5 separate regions of the Homo sapiens genome follow, and regions 1, 2, 4 and 5 are each reported to be linked to region 3. The links are microRNA targets in miRTarBase. Many come from high-throughput screens and were not tested one by one. Region 3 holds a microRNA gene; each other region holds the end of a gene's coding sequence. Distances are from middle to middle.

Evidence for each region. The annotated mature microRNA hsa-miR-3119 reads UGGCUUUUAACUUUGAUGGC and lies in region 3 at 3,302-3,321, opposite strand. An mRNA with a match to its seed (bases 2 to 7 or 8) in the 3' UTR can be bound and repressed. Matches are read on the target gene's strand: a 7mer-m8 pairs with bases 2 to 8, a 7mer-A1 pairs with bases 2 to 7 and ends in A, and an 8mer does both.
Region 1: the mRNA of KANK4 is a reported target of hsa-miR-3119. Seed matches in the 3' UTR shown: 7mer-m8 at 781-787 and 7mer-m8 at 1,893-1,899.
Region 2: the mRNA of CCDC85C is a reported target of hsa-miR-3119. Seed matches in the 3' UTR shown: 8mer at 3,119-3,126 and 8mer at 4,713-4,720.
Region 4: the mRNA of ZMAT1 is a reported target of hsa-miR-3119. Seed matches in the 3' UTR shown: 7mer-m8 at 954-960, 7mer-m8 at 1,252-1,258 and 8mer at 1,481-1,488.
Region 5: the mRNA of KCNK6 is a reported target of hsa-miR-3119. Seed matches in the 3' UTR shown: 8mer at 297-304.

The regions. Positions count from the first base shown.
Region 1 is chr1:62,235,028-62,239,027 of GRCh38, reverse strand. It overlaps KANK4 (KN motif and ankyrin repeat domains 4), which reads left to right. Exons shown (of 10, transcript NM_181712.5): 10 at 647-2,863. The coding sequence ends at 751. Among named protein-coding and RNA genes, the nearest start is that of L1TD1, 42 kb to the right of the region's middle.
Region 2 is chr14:99,511,248-99,516,039 of GRCh38, reverse strand. CCDC85C (coiled-coil domain containing 85C) reads left to right here. Exons shown (of 6, transcript NM_001144995.2): 6 at 705-4,792. The coding sequence ends at 794. CCNK (cyclin K) reads right to left here. Exons shown (of 11, transcript NM_001099402.2): 11 at 3,600-4,792. Among named protein-coding and RNA genes, the nearest start is that of CCNK, 32 kb to the right of the region's middle. RefSeq lists enhancers at 2,734-3,734, 3,735-4,234, 4,235-4,736.
Region 3 is chr1:170,149,915-170,154,706 of GRCh38, reverse strand. It overlaps MIR3119-2 (microRNA 3119-2), which reads right to left and starts at 3,329; the gene lies at 3,245-3,329. All of the region lies in intron 1 of NTMT2 (N-terminal Xaa-Pro-Lys N-methyltransferase 2), which reads right to left. MIR3119-1 (microRNA 3119-1) reads left to right here and starts at 3,245; the gene lies at 3,245-3,329.
Region 4 is chrX:101,879,500-101,884,291 of GRCh38, reverse strand. ZMAT1 (zinc finger matrin-type 1) reads left to right here. Exons shown (of 6, transcript NM_001394560.1): 6 at 1-2,002. The coding sequence ends at 782. Among named protein-coding and RNA genes, the nearest start is that of ZMAT1, 50 kb to the left of the region's middle.
Region 5 is chr19:38,326,554-38,331,345 of GRCh38, reverse strand. KCNK6 (potassium two pore domain channel subfamily K member 6) reads right to left here. Exons shown (of 3, transcript NM_004823.3): 2 at 4,358-4,753; 3 at 1-4,166. The coding sequence ends at 3,943. Among named protein-coding and RNA genes, the nearest start is that of CATSPERG, 6.9 kb to the left of the region's middle.

The sequences.
Region 1 (4,000 bases), 110 Mb from region 3:
AAAACACACCAAAATGCGAACTTTCACTTAGATACATGTAATGGAACAGCAAGAGTTATTTTATTTCCTGTTTTCCAATTTAAAGTAGAAAAAAGTGGGGCTGGGCTCAGTAGCTCACACCTATAATCCCAGCAGTTTGGGAGGCCAAGGTGGGCGGACCACTTCAGCCCAGGAGTTTGAGACCAGCCTGGGCAACATGGTGACACCCCGTCTCTACAAAAGATACAAAAATTTTCCAGGCATGATGGTGTGTACCTGTAATCCCAGCTACTTGGGAGGCTGAAGGTGGAGGATCACCTGAGCCCAGGAGACGGAGGTTGCAGTGAGCTCCGATTGCGCCACTGCACTCCACCCTGGGCGATAGAGTGAGACTCCATCTCAAAAAAAAAAAAAAAGAGCATTAAAAACTAGATGGCCCTTCTTTATTTCTGTTGTCACAGATTTCCCAGGAGTCACTATTGTTTCTGTGGAAGGGACCGCATTTCTGGTGATCCTCATGCCATTCGAATCTTCTCTACCGAGGTCTCTGGAAGCCTTAATAGACACCTGTGTCCCAGGCATACCCTCTACTCCCAACTTGCCCTTCTCCCCCAGGCAGGAGGCAGATTGGATGATATTTATTTCTTCTTTCCTTTTTCTCCTGTAGGCTGGCCGCACAGCTTTGTCCATCGCTCTGAAGTCACCCACCCATATGGAAATTGCTGGGCTTCTGAGAGCCCACGCGGAGCAGGGCAGGTCCCTGGGGCTGTAGGGGCTGCAGAAGAACTGGCCGTGGGGAACAAAAGCCTTCTTCTCTGGACTCCTCCCTCGCCCTTGAAGAGGGCAGAGGTCACAGGCCAGAGAGCCACCCTTCTAGAGAAGAAACTATGTCAAATATGCACATACATTCCTGTTGTATAATTCTGCTCATTAGGATGCTTTGTAGTTTTTGCCTTAGGCCAAGCCTGAAAACTACACGGGCTTCAGAGCAGGGTTCAAGGTGCAAGGTGAGGGGTACGTCGGTGTCATCCAAACATCCAAAACATCTTCAGCCTTGAATTCCTCATGACTCTACCCTCTGTAACATTGTGTAGCAAGCAGGCAGGCAGGAGCACATTAGCACATTAGAAAAGCAATACTTTTTACATGGAATTTTACAGTGCACTATCTTTCTGTTTTTTAAGCAAGTGTATACAAATATGTCCCATTGATATGCATGTCTATAGATGGGAGGGGATTTAAGCCAACCCCCTGGCAAGCATTCTGTAGGGGACCCTAGAAGAATCACCGTGCAGACTGGTGAAACTGAACAAGCACCATTTGGGAGCTTTGTTTCGATGGGGTTGACAGAGAAATCTTAAAATCTGACAGGGTAGAAGAAGCACTTTGGCATCAATGCCATATGTACAGTCTTGACTATTTCTGAGTCATCTAGTGGCTCCAATTTGCTCCAGGGAAATTGGAATTAATTAAGAAATTTATTATCTAGTAAGTTGCTATGTAATAAAGAAAAAAAAGAAATTCAATCCAATGACACACACCACATGTATTTGGGCAGAGTCAGATTCTCTCAGCTATTTTGAGTCTGTGGAAGAAACAAAAAAAAGCTTCCTCCTGAGGATGGGTTATTGTCATCAAGAAGCCACCTGCATAGCCGTATCCATTACCTCATGGTAATTCCCGGTGCTTTCCCCTCATATCCCCTAGAAGCAAATATCTGTTCTGAGGTTTTTTGGGACTTCTGGCTGCAATAGGAGCAAGGGACCCAGGCAGGGCAGAGCAATACCTTCCGAAGCTTCCATATTCCCTGGGGCCAGCACATGCAAGGTTTATATGGTCAGTAGCTCACGTGAAGTCATCTGAATCTTTCTTAAATCTGCTCTCTTAAAATCTCTTATGCAAAAAAAAAAAAAAAAAGCCCCTTATATAAAAAGAAGTAATGTCAAAGTTTGATGAGCTTTACATTGGAAACTCAAAAGCTTGCACTCTCATTTTGGCTCAGATGCCAATTTGCTGGGTGCCCCTGTGGTGAGTCATGAAACCTCCTTGGGCCGCAATTTCATCATCTCTAAAAACAGAAATTGTCATACAACCTACCTCCTGGGAGGTGCTGCACAAGAAGCAGCTGATGGAAGTTTCAAAATCCAATTTGTGGCCGAGCGCGGTGGTTCACGCCTGTAATCCCAGCACTTTGGGAGGCCGAGGCAGGTGGATCACCTGAGGTCGGGAGTTTGAGACCAGCCTGACATACATGGAGAAACCCCGTCTCTACCAAAAATACAAAAATTAGCTGGGGCGTGGTGGCAGGCGCCTGTAATTCCAGCTACTTGGGAGGCTGAGGCAGGAGACTCACTTGAACCCGGGAGGCGGAGGTTTCAGTGAGCCGAGATCGTGCCATTGCACTCCAGCCTGGGTAACGAGCAAAACTCTGTCTCAAAAAAAAAAAAAAAAAAAATCCAATTTGTAACCCATTAAGGCCATCTACAGCAATGGTACAGCAAACTTCTTTTGCCATTGTGATTCATAAGAGAGGCTCAGAGTCCCAGAACACAATGACATGTGTTGATGCAACTCAGAGGTGGAGAGAATGGAGCAAATAATGAGAAAAAAAATGCTTTAAATGAGTTTATTTTGACCTCAAAATACATTGTAAGAGCAACATCCTACGTTAATAAATGTTCTAGCCCGGTGCTTCGCGAACATTTATGTGCATACAAATCACCTGGGATCTTGTTAGAAGGCAGTAGGTCTGGGGTGGGGCCTGAGATTCTGCATTTCTAACCAGGTCCTGGGAGATGCTGATGCTATCGAGCCACAACCACACTTTGAGTAGCAAGCCTCTGGCCTATCCTTATTGTTTGTTATATTAAAATGCTGCCTCTCAGTCTTCTGTCTCAAAATTTCTTTGCATATCTTTGCTCTTGGTTCTTGGGAATTTGCAGTGCGGGTCTTATTTCCTATTGTCTCTGCAGACAGCAGTATGGGGTCTGTGTCCTGTGTTGCCTGTTTAGGATTTATTTCTGCATCTCATATTAGGTGGCAATTTTCATTGGGTCACTTTAAAAAAATGAAATCATATTAAAAACAACTTATTTACCAGGAAAAGCAAACTGGGTTTCCTAGAGCTTGAAGATTACTTATTCATCACTATCAAAAGACTGTCCATCCTTTCTGAGATTTTTAATAATTTTATTTTAATCTTGAGTTTTGGACATGAGCATATGATCTCATCCTTTATAACCATTTCTTTCCTTTGGAATGTCTGAGCTCAGAGTGTGGTGAGATGAACAAGCACAGCCTGCCTTCCTGTCACTGTCCCTCAGCTCTAAAATTCATTTAAAAATATCTATTGATTGGGGTGCTGAGGCGGGCAGATCACTTGAGGTCAGGAGTTAGAGACCAGCCTGGACAACATGATGAAACCCTGTCTTCACCAAAAATATTTTTAAAAACTAGCGAGGTGTGGTGGTGTGCGCCTGCAATCCCAGCTACTCAGGAGGCTGAGGCTGGAGAATTGCTTGAACCCGGGAGGCAGAGGTTGCGGTGAGCCAAGATCATGCCACTGCACTCCAGCCTAGGCAACAGAGCGAGACTCTGTCTCAAATGTATATGTATATATTTATAAACCGGCCAGGTGCCTGACACTGTTCCCAGCACTAGAGACATCACAGTGAGTCCAGTTCAGTCTCTTGCCTCATCATCCACTAGGGAAAACACATAGAAGGTCAGAAGGAAGCCCAGAGAGGTACCACTAAAGGGCACCAGAGCTGGCCTTAGAAAGTCAAGGGAGGCTTCCTGGAGAAAGGGCCAATGAACTTAAAGATTACTGGATGTTAGGCAGAAAAGGAAGCGGAATGAGAGGTGAGTGTGCCAGGCAGAAGAGTACTGCCATAACTGCCTAGTGAGTTCACCTTGCCGGTTGCCTAGACAGAGCCGATTTATCAATACTGGGGAACTGCGATAGAGAAAGAGTAATTTCATGCGGAGCTGGCTGTGCAGAAGAACAGAGTTTTATTATTAC
Region 2 (4,792 bases), not on the chromosome of region 3:
CAGAGGTGCTAGGAGCCCTGGCCCGTTGTCATCTCGCTGCCCCCTGCCCTTCCCAGAGGGCCCCTGGTGTCTGCAGATCCGCCCTCCCCAGGAGTGCCGTGCCTGGGGTTCTGGATAGAGCTTGAGCCCCCCACCCCCCCGGGACTGGTTTGTTCACCCCAGGTGTTCCCTGGGTGCTGGCCCCCGGGCCTCTCAGCTTGCTGGTGCCCCCTGTGGCTGCTGGCTGGGCAGATGGTGCTCAGAGCAGGAGGTCCAGGTGGAACCCTCCAGCCCACCAGGCTGGGGCTGCCCAGGAGAGCTCCGTGCTCGACCCAGCTGAGCACCATCGGCGGTCTCCTTGGGGGTGCTTGCAGGAGCCATCGGGGAAGGAGTTTCATAGGGTCTGAACCCAGGACTTAAAGGGGGGGCGAGAGGCTCTGAACTGTGCAGCCCCTCCCCCGCATCACCTAGTGGGGCCTGTGGACCCCACTGGACAGCTGCAAGGCTGAGCCACACCCCAGCAGTGACCTGCTCAGGCCCGATAGTTAGCGCGGCATGCAAAGACCTGGTGTGGGTGTCTCTGGGCCTGCAGTGGCCTCCGTGTCCCTCCTGGCCCCATGGCTCTGAGGACGTGGGTGATTCTGCCGTGATGAGGCGGCGGATGTGCATAGGCGGCAGGTGGACGCGGGTGAGTCCCACCACTCACATCTCTCTCCTCTCCACAGGTGGTCTGGAGAAAGCTGGGAGATGCAGCCAGCTCCAAGCCCTCCATACGGCAGCACCTGTCTGGGAACCAGTTCAAGGGGCCTTTGTAGGGCCACTCTTCTGTGGACGTGGACTGGCCCTGCTGGGGGTCCCCAGGGGGAGTTTCAGGCCCCAGACACGGGCAGGACCTCCAGCCCAGCCCCTGTCTTCTTCCTCTGTGGTGAACTGTACATAGGACGCTGCCCGCCCTGGCCCAGCTGCCATGGGTCCGATGCACTGGCCCAAGCCGCCATCTCCCGCCTCATACACCAGCAACCTGGGAAGACGAGACGCTGCGACTGTTCCTGCAGCAGAGCGGCCCGGACGCCTCATTCCCCCTCTGGGCCCTGGGCTCCATGAGCAAGAGGCTGCAGGCTGCTTCTGAGATCCAGCCTGGGAACTGTCCAGGCTCCTCTGTCCTGCCTGGGATGGAGGGGCCACTCATCAAACCCTCTACTCCCCGGCTGCCACCCACACTGGACAGAGACCACCACTACCTGGGTCTTGACGCAGGTGGCACCACTTCTTGCCCAAATGCCGTGGCCTGGCCCCAGGCCCCCCAAGCACTGGGTCCCCGGCATGTGGACAAGGCCACTCACCACATCTGTGGCTGGCTGGAGGCTGCCCTGGGCCCTTCCTGTGACCCTCAGCCTTGGAGGTCAGGGTGCCCTCACACCTGGGGATCTGTGCTCAGCCACCCGATGCCCGCTGCTCCTTGCTTTTGGAGGTCATCCCCCTCCCCCCCAGTCTCTGCAATGTCCCCCTGCCACCCTGTCCAGGCTATGCCCTTCTTGGGCTCCTCCTGCCCCATGCCTGAGGCACGTCCCTTTTCGTGGTTTACATGACAGGCCAGTAACAGGAAGGGCCTGGGGAGAGTTTCTGGGCTGAGCCACATGTGATTTTCCTGATGGGCAGCACTGGGCCACAGCTGGGGCTCTGGTTGGCTGTGACCTCCCCCAGGGCCTGGCTGCATCTTGGGTCCCTGTGGACAGAGCTGTGTAGGCTGCAGATGAGAGTTCTGTTCTTTTTGGGAAGGAGCGTGTCTGGCCAGGTTCTGCCTTTAGTTTGTGGTGTGACCTTTAGCAGTTCACTCAGCCTGTCTGGGCTCTTGGTGGAAACAGGTCTCTGAGGTTCCTTTTCGGCCATGCTTATGGCTCCAGGTCATCCAGCGCCACAGGGCAGGGGTCCTCACTGAGGGGGCGTGAGCCAACAGCCGACGGCTGAGGGCGGGCCGGGTGGAGCTGAGTTCTGCTGCCTTGCAGTCGCTGCGGGTGGAGAGTTGCCTCCCCACTCTGAGCCCGTGTCCTCAGTAGTAAAATGGGCAGCATAAGGCCCTCCTCACAGGATTCTGGCATCAAGTGAGATCTTCAGTGTAAATGACCATGTATAAACTGTAAAGTGCAATAGAAAACTGTGTGTGTGAGGAAAGTAAGGCCTAGAGGGGGTGATGTGTGGCACATGACAGGGATTTTGATCCCACAGCTGCAGCACGGGGACAGGCCGCTTCCCCACATCCGCTCATGCCACTGTAAGCAGCCCTAGCTCTTGGGTCCAGGACCTCACCAGGTCCTCGTCAGACTCCTGTGCTCTTCCAGGGGCTGCTCAGCCCCACCTGAAGAGCCCAGAGAGGCTGTCTTCCTACCCAGCAGGTCTCATGCAGGCCCAGGGCTGGGGATGCAGGCAAGAGGAGGGAGATGGCCGCCCTGTCCCTCTCCCTAGCTGGCGGCTCTATTCTGAGCAGTTCTTGCTGCCCGTTTGCTCTCAGGGGAAAGGCTCACGCCCCCCATCTTAGCCCCAGGGGGGTAAGTGGGTGCTGGTGATGGGATGGTGTGGCGCTCCTGCCGTGGGTGTTGCCAGGAGGCTCTTTGGGAAGGAGTGTCGCCCGGTCAGGTGGTGCGCTCCCGGTCACTAGGGGTGTACACGTGAAGTTGGGTGAACACCTGCTGCTCATGGTACCCAGTGATTCTTGCCCGAGTGGGCAGCTGAGCAGAGGCCCCTCTGGGTCTTGCAGTCCAAAGAACCGCAGAGTAGCCCAAGGGCTGTGGGTCCATTTTGAGTGGCAGCCAAGTCTGGGAGCCCGTGTGCATCATGTTTGGGTCAGGTTGGCGTGGCCACCACTGAAATAAGCAATAAGTACGGGCTCCTGGTACCTGCGGATCTCCTGCAAACAGGCCCAGAGAACAGCCTTGAAGCCACCTTTCCCCTCAAGGGGACTGACCCTGTCTTTAATGCTGCAGTGGCATCCAGGGATCAGTGGAACATTGCTTTGAGAACCCTCCTGCTGTTACGGAGGCAGCACAAAGCTGGTGACCCCTGAGCCAACACGGCACTGGGATGGCTTTCTAGGACAGAACCCTGTCGGCGACTGTCACATCTCAAACTAATAGCTGATTTTAAAAGCCAGCAGCAGCGACGCCATGTACCTGAGTACAGGTGGCAGTTGCAGAGCCGTGGGCTGTAGAAGGTCAGATGGGGCTTCCCACAGGGGAAATCTGGGCATGCTGTAGCTCAGGGTGACTCCCAGCTCCGTCACTAGCAGGGCGACCCCCTTCCTTCTGGAGCCTTAGCTCTGAAAGCCCCCAGTGGGGGTGCCCTTTCAGATGCCCCCTTTCCATTTCAAAGGCTCTGACTCTTGATCTTGAAGCCGGACGCGGCACTGGCACTCGGCTTCAGTTTCCACTGTGACAGATGGAGGTCTCCTTTCGCCCCAGCCCAGGTGGCCAAGCCCATCCTGGCCTCAGAACATGCTGAGCACATTTTGTAGGGTGGCACCTTTTTATCCAAGTTACTAGCTACACATCAGTGTTTAAAGAGAAAAAAGTGACCTTTCATTTTTTTTTTCTTGAAACTTGAGGAAACAAGATACATACTACTGATTTTTTTTTTTTCTTAAAACTAAATGCATGACTGCAGAGCGGTAGAGGTGTATATTTTTCATACTGTGGGGCAAAGTATTTGTGCTGCTTTTTGGAGATGGACTGGAACGTCTGGTTTCTGTCCCCGGGCCCGGCAGCTACGTCTATTTTCTGTAGAAGGTGCCACAGTGAGACCTGGAGCCACCCCTTCCTGCCCTGGCGCCGTTTAGAGCTGGGAGCCCGTGGACTCCCGGCCTGTTTCTACCTTCTATTCAACCACTCTGACGTGGGGAGACAAGAAGAAATAGAACTTTTTGATAGTGTGGTAAAAACATTGATTTGAACTATTTTAGTAAAAGGAGTAACAAACAAGATTGTGATAGTGTCTACTTTGAGCTAGATAAATAAAGGCCTCTTTGTGAGCCTCCTGGCTGGGTGCTCAGTGCTTGTTTCTGTCGTGGGTGGCAGGGTCAGCAGGCAGAGACAGGGCCAAGGCCCCTCAAGCACCGCAGATGGGGGCTCAGTCGGGGCCCCTTCCACAGACAGAGCCGTGGCCCCTCAAGGTGGACAGTGAGGCCGCTGCTCCTCCAGCTGCCTCTGTCTCATCACAGGCCAGAAGTGGAAAGGGTTTCAAATCCAAGCCCCCGGGTTCCTGTGTGCGTTCTACGCAGCAAGGCTTCAAAGTTTCAAACTGGTTTGGAACTCAACCAGGTCCTCCAAAGGAAACCAAGGCAGGCACAGGATGGGGGCAGGCTGGCTTGGCAGGCAGCTGTGCGGATCCACCCAGAGTGCCTTGGGAGGCAGTGGGGTTGGCTGTGGCTGCTGTGAGCTGCAGCCAGGCCTCTCCCGCGTCCCCAGGGTCTGGAAGGAGGGCCTCTGCACATTTTATAAGCCACAGACTGCGAAGGCCTGGAGCCCCACCTTCCACCCATAACAAAGAAAGGGATAGTTTCAGAACTGCTTTTATTTGGATAACTGACTGAAGGAGTCTCATTTGTAACCAAGATGGAATTCACAGTATGTTGTTACATTCACACTTAAAAAATATATCTCTATGTACAGGAATTTGCAAAGAGATGTAAACATACATTAATTTCCAAGTACATTTCTCCCCTTCTCCCTGGAGGAAAAAAAAAAAGCCATCCAATGAGGCAACCCCTTCAAAATAATTTTAATACAAAGGATGCAAACATCTATAAATGAAAAATGTGGTT
Region 3 (4,792 bases):
TCATCTGGAGATGAGTTCCTCCACCTACAACCCCATAAAATCAAAACAAGTTATTTATTTCCATGATACAATGGGGATACAGGTATTGGGTAAACATTCCCATTCCAAAAGGGAGAAATAGGCCAAAGGAAAGGGGTTAAAGGTCCCTCACAAGCTTGAACCCCAGCCAGCAGGGCAGTCCTTAAGTCTTAAAGCTCCAAAATAATCCTTGACTCCATGCCCCGCATTTGGGCACACTGAGGTGTGGACTTCCAAGGTCTTGGGCAGCTCCCCTCCTGGGCTAGTCCATACTGAGGTTGTAAACTGCAGGTGGGTCTGCCATTCCCAGGTCTGGAGGCAGTTGACCCCCTTCTGATAGCTCCACTAGGCAGTGCCCCCAGTGGGGACTCTGTGTGGGACTTCACCCCACATTTCTCCTCCACACTAGTAAAGGTTATCTCAGTGTGGGGGGCTCCACCTTTGCAACAGGCTTCTGCTTGGGTGCCCAGGATTGCCCATACATTCTCTGAAATCCAGATGCTTGGCAGCCTCCACTACTCTTGCACTCTGTGAACCCACAGGCTTAACACCATGTGGAAGCCAACAGACTTACAACTTCTGCCCTTCAGAGCAGATGCCTCAGCTGTACCTGGGTCCCTTTGAGCCACAGCTAGAGCTGGAGTGGGATATGGAGAACAGTGCTCTGAGGCTACACAGGGTAGCAGGGCCCTGGGCCTGGTCCCCTGAAACCAGTTTTCCTACACTACTGGGTCTGTGATGAGAGGGGCTGTCTCTTAGATCTCTGAAATGCCTTCCAGACCTTTTCCCCATCATCTTGGCTATTAGCACCTGGCTCACTTTTAGTCATGCAAATCTCTCTAGCAAGTGGTTGTTTCACAATCTACTTTAATTCTTACTCTGAAAAAGCTTTCTTTGCCACATGGCTAGGCTGCAAATTTTCAACTTTTATGCTGTGCTTCACCTTTAAATATAACTTCCAACTTTAAGTCATTTCTCGCTTCCAAATCCTGGTTAAGCTGTTAGAAGCAGCCAGGCCACATCTTGCATGTTTTGCTGTTTAGAAATTTATTCCACCAGATATGCTAAGTCATCACTCTTAAGTTCAATCTTCCAGAGATCCCTAGGACATGGATACAATGCAACTAAGCTCTTTGCTAAAGCATAACAAGGGTGATCTTTGCTCCACCTCCCAATAAGTTTCTTATTTCCATCTGAGATCTCAGCATTCTGGCCTCACTGTCCTTGTCACTATCAGCATTTTGGTCACAATGATTTAACAGCTCTTAGAAGTTCCAAACTTTTCCTCATCATCTTGTCTTCTGAGCCCTCCAAATTCTTCCAACCTCTTCCCATTACCCAGTTCCAAAGTCAATTCCACATTTTCAAGTATCAGATGCTTCCACATGTCAGGCATTTCAGGAGCAACGCTCTACTCATCAGTACCAATTGTCTATGTTAGGCCATTCTTGCATTGCTATAAAGAAATACCTGAGACTGCTTAATTTATAAAACAAAGAGATTTAATTGACTAATAGTTCTGTACGCTGTAAAAGAAGCATGGCACTGGCATCTGCTCAGCTTCTGGGGAGGCCTTAGGGAGCTTTTACTCATAGCTAAAAGTGAAGCAGGAAAAAGCACATCACATGGCAAGAGTGGGAGTAAAAGGTGGGGTGAAGTGCCACACAATTTTAAACAACCAGCTCTCATGAGAACTCACTCATTATTTTAAGGACAACACCAAGGCATGAGGGATCCATCTTCATGACCCAAACACCTCCTACCTGGCCCCACCTCCAACACTGGGGATTACATTTCAACATGAGATTTGGATGAGACAAATATCCCAAATATATCAAAACCTATCATACAACTTGTTGAGATTATTAAATGAGATAATGCATGTGAAAACACCTAGTATGGTGTTTGGTTTAGAGTAGAAGCTCAATAAATGTTACCCTCCTCATTATATTTTTCATCAACAATGGTGGTGGGGGGGGGATTTATCAGTGTTTCTGGTGAAATCCAAGGTTTAAATGTGCCAGGATACTAGAAAGCTGTCATTACCAAGTCTCTGGATTGCCCAGAGGAACCCTCTAGGTTTTATTTGCTCCCTATAGGCTTTAGGTGTCTGATGTTTCTTATCTCTAAAATAGGGCGCTGCCTATTCTGAAAGTTGTGTGGGGCTTTTTTCTTTTCAACTGAGGGCTAGTTTAGTGTTTCCTGACTTCTAAATTGGGGAAAGACAATCTACTTTCTCAAATTCAGCAAGAGATCTATCCCCTACCTACTCGCTGAGTGTCTTCCTAACTCTCTTCTTTCTTGAACTCTCTATCTGACCTACTATCAAATCTGAGAAGGCCAGAAGTCAAGGGGAGATACTGAAGACAGATTTTTCATGATGAGATTTGACTCAGCAGTCCCCATGCTTCCTTTGCACCTCTGTAGAATTTTATAGTGGTCTCTACCACTTTAATACCACATTTTTAAAAAGTATTTGTGTACGTCTCTCTCCTACACTAAACTCTTCAGGATAAGGCTATATTTTATTTTTTTGTAATCCTAGCACTTAATGTTATGCTAACTTCTTGATGGGCCTTCTTTGAATGTTCATTGAATAAAAGCTAGCTTTTTGTTCTTTAAATAATATATGGGTACAAGAAAGAGCTGAATGGTTATAGGGATTAACCGACATAAGCACACATAAGTCATACCTTTGGTATCATTTATGAAATACCTGTCCTCCCAATTAGGCATACTCAAATAATTAAAAAATAGTAACTATAGATGATCAAACATGTTTATATGTAATACTTATGCAAAACATTTATATCGAACTGACTATGTGAGATAAACATTATATATCCATTCTACAGAAGAAGAAACCAAGGCATTAAGAGATTAACTAAATTTCCCAAGGTTAAGCAGCTAGAGAGTGATAGATCTGGGACTTGAACCTAGGTCTATTTAAGTAGAAAACCTATAGATCATCCCTCTCATACTCTGCACCTAAAAATATGTCTGCTAAATAAAAAAGAAAATTATATTTTCTTCATTGCTTGAAAGAGAAAAATGGTCTTGCAGCATTTGTATTGCACAGGTAATGATAAACATTTGAAAATGTATCATTGTACAATGAGTTGTGCAGCAATGCCTACCACAGGAATGAAATAAATTTTTAAAATACCAATAGCTGTATGGTGAGTTTTATTCTGGAAGTTCCAAGTGCTTTTTAGGAAATGTTGTTATTAACTCTGGCTTTTAACTTTGATGGCAAAGGGGTAGCTAAACAATCTATGTCTTTGCCATCAAAGTTAAAAGCCATAGTTAATTTCCTCCTCAGAGACTGATTCTTCTGAAAAGGGATCAACGCAAGAGAGGATACCTCCTATGTGCCAGGTATTATGCTAGGTACTTTCAAGTCACCTCTTCACATTGTCTCTTTTAACTATCACAATGATTATATAAGACTAGAATTATAATCGTCATTTTATAGATGAGTAAGAGAATCAGAGAGACTTGGTAACTTAATATCACATAGAAAAGAAACGTCATAACCAGGTCCTAGCACATGCCTATTCAAATGCAAAGCTTCTGGTCTTTCTGTTAAACCACACAGAACCATTGTTCTACACATGAAGTTGGGCTAAGCCTTTAACAATGTCTAGGAGTAATAGACTTTTGCTCAATAATATAATTAATGAATATTCATTGACTTCTATGTGTTCAGAAATGTGGATAGCACTGGAAGAATCATTGAGTGTTAAGTTATTCCTCAATGATTGTTACTAAACATGGAGATGTTGTCCCAACATCTCCAGTTGAGCCCTTTGAGCACTGGTATACACACTGGAGATTTCCACTGACTTGTTTTCCCATTCTATTTCCTATTTGTTCATGAATAGCCATTTTTTGAAAATTTGTTCACACCAAGCTTCTAACAGAAATTTGGTTGGCATAACTAGATTATTTAAACCTATTTACTGGCCTGCCTATCTTGATTATCTCAACAGAAAGCGAATGCTCTTCATAGGCTATGTTTGTTCCCTATTCCTGTTAAATCATAAAATATGGTAAAACTTATATTGCTGCCCACATTAGTTAAGTTTTCATTTACATTGTATTATGTAGTGGTTTAAAAAAGATCATGGAGTTAGATCACCTGGGTTCTAATCCTGCTACTCCACTCACCACCACAAGATCTTTGGCAAGTTACTTAACTCATCTAGGTGTCAGTTCTTCAAATATAATATGGGGAAAATAACAGCACACCTAATAGAGATGTTATAAAAATGAACTGAGATAATATATGCAAAACACTGAGAACAATGATAGGCTTGTTCTCACTTCTTTCTGAAGATCAGTTATGTTCAACAGCATAGCTGAGTCTTCCATTGGAGATTTTTAGTATGTATGTCTTTGCTATTCCATGAATCTCTGAAGCTTGCCAGGGATGTTTCAGCAAATTTCCCCATGACTGAATGTCACCACATATCGTGCTGGAGTGAGACTGCTGCCTAATCTAGGCAGTTGGAGGGAGGAAGGAAGGAAAGAAGGAATCAAAGAGTCTGGTTAGCCACCGTTCTTTCCATATAATTACCCCAAACAACAAACTCTCTGTGCAGACCCTACAGGAGAAGTTCCTAGCCTTTTTGAAAGAAGGACTTTATTTTCATTTCTATGAAGTCTTGAAATTATCAAGAGTAGAGGAAGCTGACTCTAAAACACCTCAGCAGAGCTGGAGAGGAAGCATCTCTTCTGGCTAAGTTTTATTTCCAAACTGAAAAACATAATT
Region 4 (4,792 bases), not on the chromosome of region 3:
AGTGGCTACCAACCCATTCAAAGAGGACATATGATTCTTTCCAAGATGAACTTGAAGATTACATAAAAGTGCAGAAAGCCAGAGGACTAGAGCCAAAAACTTGTTTCAGAAAGATAGGAGATAGCTCTGTAGAAACACACAGGAACAGAGAAATGGTTGATGTCAGACCCAGACATAGAATGTTGGAGCAAAAGCTCCCATGTGAGACTTTCCAGACCTATTCAGGACCATATAGTATTTCACAAGTAGTGGAAAACCAGTTACCTCATTGCTTACCAGCTCATGATAGCAAACAGAGACTAGATTCTATTAGCTACTGTCAACTCACCAGAGACTGTTTCCCAGAAAAACCAGTACCCTTGAGCCTTAATCAGCAAGAAAATAACTCTGGCTCATACAGTGTAGAATCTGAAGTTTACAAGCACCTCTCTTCAGAAAACAATACTGCTGACCATCAAGCAGGTCATAAACGGAAACATCAGAAGAGAAAACGACACCTAGAAGAAGGCAAAGAAAGGCCAGAGAAAGAGCAGTCCAAGCATAAAAGGAAAAAGAGTTATGAAGATACAGATTTAGACAAAGACAAGAGCATCAGACAAAGGAAAAGAGAGGAGGATAGAGTCAAGGTCAGTTCAGGAAAGCTTAAGCATCGAAAAAAGAAAAAAAGCCATGATGTACCCTCCGAGAAAGAAGAACGTAAGCACAGGAAAGAGAAAAAGAAATCTGTTGAAGAAAGGACAGAAGAGGAAATGCTTTGGGATGAGTCTATTCTTGGATTTTGAATGTTTAGTTTTGTTTACCCAAGGTTGAATTGAAAAAAAAAAACAGTCAATATGGATTTAGAAAAAGGAACACCTGATGAAGAAAAGGAGAGGTAGATACAGTCAGTGTCACTTCAGGACACTTAGGTTTTTTTTGTATAAAAATTTAAATTGAATTAAAAGAAGGAAAAAAAAAGCCCAAACTTAACCTCTGAGAAAAGAACATAAGAACTCAAGGAGAACATAAGAGAAAAGGAAACCTGTTACAGAAAAGACAAGAATCTGTGTTTTGGAATGAGTCTATTCTTGGGTATTGAACTTTTAGTTTTGTTTGCCCAAGGATTAATTGAGGAAATCAGCTAAGAAAATGGACTTTAGACAAAAGCAAGAGGATCAGATGAAGAAAAGGAGAGGTAGATACAGTCAGTGTCACTTCAGGAAAGCTATTTAAAAAAACTTGAAATTTAATTGAAAGAAGAAACAACAACAAAAAAGCCTAAACCTAGCCTCTGAACAACACTAACATGAGAACACAAGAACTTAAGAGAAAAAGAAACCTACTCAAGAAAAGACAGAAGAGACAGTGATTTGGGATGAGTCTACTCTAGGATTTTCAACTTTTTAGTTTTGTTCCTTCAAAGTTGAAGGAAAAAAAGTTTGGTTTTATAAAATTCATGTTATTGTAATTTTTCTAGGTGGATGGCTACTTTAATCTCTAAAAAAGCCAAGTGAAGTAAAAGTATTCAGTATGCCTTTTCCTCAAGTTACTTTCCTTCATTTTCTTAAAAAAGAAAAAAAATTATTAAATGTTTCTCACATATCTCACATATAATGTAATTTCCCTAAATGAAGTTGTCTCTACTTCTGCTCATCAAATTGCTGTGATAGTGAATTATTTATTCATGGGAGATAATTTATTTTAAAGGACAGAATTACCAAGCGTTACAAAATCAGTTCTTTCCTTGGTTTTGTGTTAGTGTTGGTGGTATTTTATTGTTGTTTTTCTGTGTTTATGTGTCTCAGCTTTCTCCAAGGAATATGTATGAAATAACTTAAACTGATTTTTTCTTTGTTAAATCTAATTTGCAGTGTATTTTTGCATTTTCTAGTTCTGAAAGTGGAAAATGAAACAGTCTATAATAAACTTAGATGATATATAGTTTTAAAACGGTCTCAAAAAGTACTGATATAAGGTCAGTCTATATTCTGGAAATGTTTATATTAAAGTGTTTTAATTTCTACATATTGTTTTATGTAAATGATCATTTCCCATCCAAAATTATTATTTTGGGAGTTGGAGGGGCAATAATTAAACAGTTGGCACTTAATACCTCTGAGGAGATCACACTATGAAGTTGTAATAATTTTATATTTTCTATATCTTATCTCACAGAGGCTGATACTGAGTCTCAAACTCAGTTTAAGGTTAGGAAAATATGACCAATTAAATGGTTGAAACCGAAGAAGGAAGAATTGGTAAGTGGTAGAGGACCAGAGGGTGTTACCTTTGAATTGTTTGATTTTGACAAATTTTTTACGCTGGTGCTCCCTTTATTTATGAGCAGTACCACTAAGTATTTGAGGATCACAATGGGATAGTAGACAGTGTAATAATGGCCTGTGAATCTAAATTCCAGGATTCTGGTCTCAGTTGCACCATCAAGTTGCTCTGTGACCTTGTGAGAATACCATTAGAATCCAACTTGGAATCACTAGGAATATGAAAAGTAGGCTTTGTGTTCTCTTCATGTGTTAATCCTATCAAAAAACAAATGTATGCTCCACACAGTGGCTCATGCCTGTAATCCCAGCACTTTGGGTGGCTGGGGCAGGAGAATCACTTGAGTCCATGAGTTCAAGAACTGCCTGGGCAACATAGTGAGATCCTGTCTCTATTTTTTAAAGATAACAAAATAAATTTAGATGGTGACATATCTACATTTAGGCAAAGCATTTAATAGGTGACATGTCTGCATTTGGGCAAGGCATTTAATAGCTGTTCTTTGCAATTTAAATAAAATAGTAAATGTAAGCTGAAGCATAATATGATTGATTGGGTTTATACCTAGTTGAGTAAATAGTCCTAAATGGAATTAGATGCTTCCCAAATCCACTTTTCTTCCATGAGACTGTTGTTGTAAGATTATTTTATGCTACAATATCATCCCCCATTTTAAATACATTTGGTGTATTGGTGAAAGGAGAGGGGAAAGAAGAACTAGAGTAGAATACATAGACTGCGAATCACCAAGCACAAATTGGTCAGTTATCTTTTTTGAGCACACCAAGAACTGCAGCACCTTTTCACAAAGTGCAAGATAAGATCAATTGAATTGCCAGCATCTGTTAAATTGACGAATTCTTTCATAGAAGCTTGTATTTAAAGTTGGAGAGGACTCAAAACTATATATTATAAAAATATTCCCTAAGATACAAAATTACTCTCATCTTTTAAAAATAGATACAATGATTCATAAAAATTATCCACCCATATTTAATCTATAGTGGATAAGTCATGCAAACTTTAAAAACCAAAACCATTTAAATTGGTGATGTGTTGAGTAGACCAAAAAGGATGTAGTATTGATTACGGTCTTGGGACATGCACCAGTGACTTGCTCTAGAAAAGTGGTTTTCAAAAATTTTAAGACAATTTTTTGCCAAAAATAAATTTTACGTTAACCTCACCATAAAACAAATTTTACATTAACCTAAATACATAATGTTCTGGTTGAAGGTGGGGAAAGGGTCTGGAGCCCAACTTTGGCACATTTGTTATGCTCCCAACTTCTGCCTCTGAGCATTTAGAGGTAAGAGTATATGTAAGTCAAGATGTTTATGTGTAGGATCCCAAATTATCTCCACTTCTGGAATTAAGTGTTGAACTCACTAAGATGAAATTTAATGATATAAATAGTAAATCCTACATTTGGGTATTTCAATACAAAAACATATTTGAGGAAGCATAATTTAAGATATTATATGTGAAAACAGTGTTGAGGATTTTATTACGTGCTTGGTTTGAAAGACTAATATGCTCACCCAGACATGAAAATCACATATGGTCTAAGTCAAATATATAAGAGAATATTTGGAATAAGTTAAAAGTATCTAACTTCAGAGATAAATCCTGAACTGGGTAGAAGATACAGGGAGGCAAGTACTGGGCAAATCTGGAAAATAGTTTTCAAAAACTGGAGCTGTAGAAAAATAGAATTTACTGTCTTGTGTGCATGCATTGAACAAATAAGAGCTGACTGTCAGCATTGTGCCAGGAAGGAACCTGAAAAAAGAATGAACACACATTGTTTTTCAAAAAGCTCACAGTCCAACAGAGGAAATGGACCAATAAATAGACAGTTACAAAATAAGTTTTATAAAGGCTTCAATCAAAGTGATGAAGGACGCTGTGGGTAGCAAAGGTAGTGAGCTTAATGGGATGGGAAGAGGGCATTCAGAAAAGGCTTCCCGAAGGACATCTAAGCAGACCATTTTCTCTCAGTTCAAAGATTTATTTATTTGATATATATACATGGTTATCTAATAGGCGCTGCAAACTTAATATAGCCAAATAGAATGCTGCCTTCTGTCATTACCAATTGTTCATCTAGTTTCCCTTATTTCTGTAAAACCATCTAATTGCCTAAGCCAAAAACCATTTTTGAGCATCTCTTCTCTCCTACATTAGACCATAAGCAATTCCCCTTGATTATATCACCAAAATGTTTCTCTTAATGTTCAGTTCTCTTCATCTTTACTGTCATCACCCTACTCTGAGATATCATTATTTCTTGACCAAACTGGGAAAATAGGTTTGAGAGCAATTGAAACATTGGAAGAAGTGATCACAGGTTCTGAATTACAGATAAGAAAACTGCACAGAATCATCAAGAGATCAGAGAGAGCTGTGGTGAACTTGTCCCTTAAGGATTTCACAACTATCCACCATATGTTTTCTTCCAGAAGAAAAAATTCCACATACAGAAAGAAAACTGCTTATTTCAGAAATCAAATTGAACAGGGAAGAGAGA
Region 5 (4,792 bases), not on the chromosome of region 3:
CCCTTTTTTTTCTCCTAGGACAGGGTCTTGCTCTATGGCCCAGGCTGGAGTCCAGTAGTGTGATCATGGCTCACTGCAGCCTCAACCTCCTAGGCTCAAGTGATCCTCCTGCCTCATCCTCCTGAGTAACTGGGACTACAGGTGTGCGCCACCACACCCAGCTCATTTTTAACATTTTCTGTAGAGGGGTCTTGCTATGTTAACATGTCCAGGCTGGTCTCCAGCTCCCGGGCTCAAGCGATCCTCCTGCCTCAGCCTCCCCAAGTGTTGGGATTACAGGCATGAGCCGCTGAGCCTGGCTTTTTTAATGTCTTGGACCAAAAAGGACTTGCTTTTCTTCCTGGAGGTATTTGGAAGGAGAAACAGTGAGAAATGAACGCCAGCTCACATAGGCACCTAGCTGCCCCGAGATGACTTTAGCTCAAAGTCAGCTGTGACATAGGTAAGGAACCGAGAAGGTTGGGAGGCTGAGAAAGGGCTAGACAACAGATATTTCTGAGCTCCCATAGGAAAAGATGCCCAACCAAAACCTTGTTCAAATCCCAGTGTTCCACTTTCTGTGTGACCTTGGGCAAGTATTTAACATCTCTGGACCTCCTTCCCCCATCTGTAAAATGTAGAGAATGTATCAGGGGCTTGGAATCGTGCCTGGCACATAGTATATCCAATATACATATTTTCTTTTTCTTTTTCTTTTTCTTTTCTTTTTTTTTTTTTGAGACAGGGTCTTGCTCTGTCACCCAAGCTGGAGTACAGTGATGCAATCACAGCTCACTGCAGCCTTGACCTCCCAGGCTCAAGTGATCCTCCCACTTCAGCCTCCTGAGTAGCTGGGACCACAGGTGCACACCACCAAACCCAGCTAATTTTTGTATTTTTTGTATTTTATGTTGCTGAGGCTGGTCTTGAACCCCTGGGCTCAGGCAATCCTCCTGCCTCGGCCTCCCAAAGTACTACGATTTGCTAGGATTATAGGTGAGAGCCACTATGCCCAGCCCCTATGACTTTTTTTTTTTTTTTGAGACAGAGTCTCTGTTTCGCCCAGGCTGGAGTACAGTGGTGTGATCTCGGCCCACTGCAGCCGCCACCTCCCAGGTTCAAGCAATTCTGTCTCAGCCTCCCAAGTAGCTGGGACTACAGGCATGTGCCACCACACCCAGCTAATTTTTGTATTTTTAGTAGAGACGGGGTTTCACCATGTTGGCCAGGCTGGTCTTGAACTCCTGACCTCAGGTGATCCACCTGCCTCGGCCTCACAAAGTGCTGGGATTACAGGCGTGAGCCACCTGGCCTGCCCCCTATGACCTCTTGATACACCCCTGGGTGTCCCTTTTGCCCCACACACCCACCATATTCTAAAGCAGCCTCAGCGTCTCCGCTAAAACCTGCTCTTTCTCTCAGGGATAACTGGCCACTCTGTGGGACATTCCCTAGCCGCGTCCCTCCAGTCTGTGGGGGCTATGGCCTGTCCACTTGGCTCCTGAGTGTGCCCGCACTCACCCCTCCTCCCTTCCATGGCTCAGCCCAGGCCCATCGTCTCCCTCTTCATTCCTGCCTCAGCCTCCCACAGGCACCCAGCCTCAGTACCCGCTCTGCTCCACCTCTCCAGAGCAACTAGGGGGATCATCCTAAAACCCAAACCTAACCATGACCCACTCCTACTCTAAACCCTTCCATGGCTCTCTAGGGCCCTCAGGAAAGAGACCAGGTTCCCATGCTGGTCATTTAAGGACACTAACGGGTGCTCGTGCGCACCCCTCTGCCCTCCTTCCCTCTTTCCCTGCATACCGTTCATACTAAACTGCTTGTCAGAAGCTGGTGGCCAGCATGCTTTTCCATCTCCAGGCCTTTGCACACAGCTCCTCCCACCTGGTATGCCCTCTCCATGCCTTTTCTACTTGTCTACTGTTGGGACCCAGCTCAAATGCCCCAGCCCTTTTTAAAATTTTTATTTTTGTAGAGATGGGGTCTTGCTATGTTGGCCAGGCTTGTCTCAAACTCCTAGCCTCAAGTGATCTTCCCACCTTGGCCTTCCCAAGGTGCTGGGATTACAGGACTGAGCCACTGTGCCCCGCTTCTTTCCTTCTTTTCTTTTCTTTCTTTCTTTTTTTTTTTTGAGACGGAGTCTTGCTGTCACCCAGGTTGGATGCAGTGGCGCGATCTCGGCTCATTGCAGGCTCCGCCCCCACCGGGGTTCACGCCATTCTCCTGCCTCAGCCTCCCGAGTAGCTGGGACTACAGGCGCCTGCCACCTCGCCTGGCTAATTTTTTGTATTTTTAGTAGAGACAGGGTTTCACCGTGTTAGCCAGGACTTACTTTCTTTCTTTTTCTTTTTTTCTTTCTTACTTTTCTTTCTTTTTCTTTTTTCTTTCTTACTTTTCTTTCTTTTTCTTTCTCTCTCTCTCTCTTTCTCTTTCTTTTTCCTTCCTTCCTTCCATCTTTCCCTTTCTTTCTTTCTTTCTTTCTCTCTCTTTCTTTCTTTCTTTCTCTCTTTCTTTCAGACAGGGTCTCACTCTGTCCCGCAGGCTGGAGTGCAGCAGTGCCATCATAACTCACTGCAGCCTCAAACTCCTGGCCTCAAGTGATCCTTCCACCTCAGCCTCTGAAGTAGCCAGGATCACAGGCATGCACCACCACACCCAGCTAATTTTTAGATTTTGTGGTTGTTGTTGAGATAAGGCCTCACTGTGTTGCCTAGGCTAGTCTCAAACTCCTGGCCTCAAGCGATCCTCCTTCCTCAGCCTTCCAAAGTGCTGGGTGTATAGGCGTGAGCCACCACACTCAGCCTGAAATCCTTTTGAAGTTGTATTATGATGATCACCATTTTACAGATAAGGAAACAAAATCAGAGAGGTAGTGTGACTGCCCAAGGACACAGGCCAGACGTGGCTAAGTTGGGATTTGAGCTCAACCAGGCTGATTCCAGGGCACAACATACAAATGTGGACAGCTCTTACAATGGTGTCATGGTTAAGGGCAGCACCTCCCATGCCATTCAGATCTGGGCTGGGGTCCTATGTCTGTTTCCTGCCTGCCAGGCTGCTGAGGAAGAGTCTATCGCCCAGGCCTACACCAGGGGTCCCTCCATGGGTCCTGCTCCCTGGAGACACCTGAGAAAAATGAGTCAGGTACAACTTCTTCCTGCCTATTTCTCATAGTTCAGGTCTTAGTTCGATGTCCCTTCCTCTAGGAAGTCCTCCCTGACTTTCCAGGCTGGATTGGGCCTAGTCCCTATGCTTCTCCGACTTCAGCCCTGACCACTCTGCCTGTGCTTTCAACACCTCACCTCCTCCATTAAAGTCCTGACCATTTTGGGCCATCACTGTCTGGGGACAGGTCTGTCCACCTCACTGGACTGCAAGCTCCATAAGGGCAGTTCTCCACCCCCAACTATGTCTCCAGCACTGTCTAGCACAGGGCCAGCACACAGGAGGGGTTTAGGGGCAAATTCTTCTATTCTTCCCATTTGGCAGCTGAGGAAATCAAGGCTCAGAGACGGGCAGTCACTTGTCCAGGGTGTAGCGACCAATCTGGTGCCTGAAATGAGGTCTGAGCCCACAGCCCAGTAGAATCAGCAGTTGACGAGTGGTTAATTGAGAGACACAGACGGAACATGAAAGAGAATGAGAAACAGAGACAGCAAGAGGGAAAGACAGAGGCAGCGAGAATGCCAGAGAGCCAGAGAGACACAGTGTAAAGAGGATGAGAGAAAGGACAGAGAACAAGGTTATGTTGGTGCCCAGTGGAGCCCGGGACATGGGGACAGGGAGTGCTGCCCTTCACATCCCAGCCAGATGCTGGGAAACAAAGGAGAGACGGTGGACGGCAAGGCCTCAAGATCACCTGCTGTGCTCGTGGACATTCCTGTACAGCCAGCTCTGGTCGCCTGGACCCCTCAGTCCCAGGCCAGGCACACCCAAGCCTGGCAGAGGCTGCCCCAGCTACCTGGGGATGGAAGCGTAGTCGGTGTGGGAGCTGGCAGAGAGTTGCTGGTGCGACTCCGGCTGGGGGCCCAGGATGTCCACCCGATCGTCCTCATCCGCATTGAAACTGGCAGGGCACGGAGGGGGCAGCAGGATGAGCTCCGTGAGGCCGTGGAGGTCGGACACGTGGCGGAAGGTCTGCAGCACCAGCACCATGGCCACCAGGCCCAGGAAGAGGTAGACTGTAAAGGCGGAGAAGGGGCGTTGGTCATCCTGGGGCTCAGATTTTCCAGGCGGGGCCGCAGTTCTACTGGACCCTGCAGGGTGGGGTTGGATCCCTTTTGGAAGTCCCAGAGTGGGACTGTGAGCCTTTAACTCCCCCAGGGACAGGGCTAGGTCCTCCTCAAAGCCCTGCCCTAGCCACCCAGCTCACCTGTGACCAGCACCTTGTAGAGGGCCCGGTAGGGCTGGCCAGGGGCCTCCCCGGGCACGTAGTCGCCCAGGCCGATGGTGGACAGAGAGATAAAGCAGAAGTAGAAGGCATCCAAGAAGCTCCAGGCCTCCTCGAGGTGGGCAAAGATCACAGCCGGCACCAGAAAGCAGACGGTCACTACGACCCCCAACAGGGCCACCAAGTGCCAGCAGGCCGCCCGCCGGGGGTCCCAGCCCCAACGCATGCTCAGCCAAGACAGGGGCACGTGAGTCAGCAGCAGTGACAGGCGCTGGGCTGAGGCGGTCAGCAGCAGCATGGTGGTCGGCACGCCCAGGAGCGCAAAGGCGATGGAGAAGGCCTTGCCCGCATCAGTCAGTGGCGTTGTGTACCCATAGCCTAGGGGAGTAAAGAGAGTAAAGGGTAAATCTTTTTCTT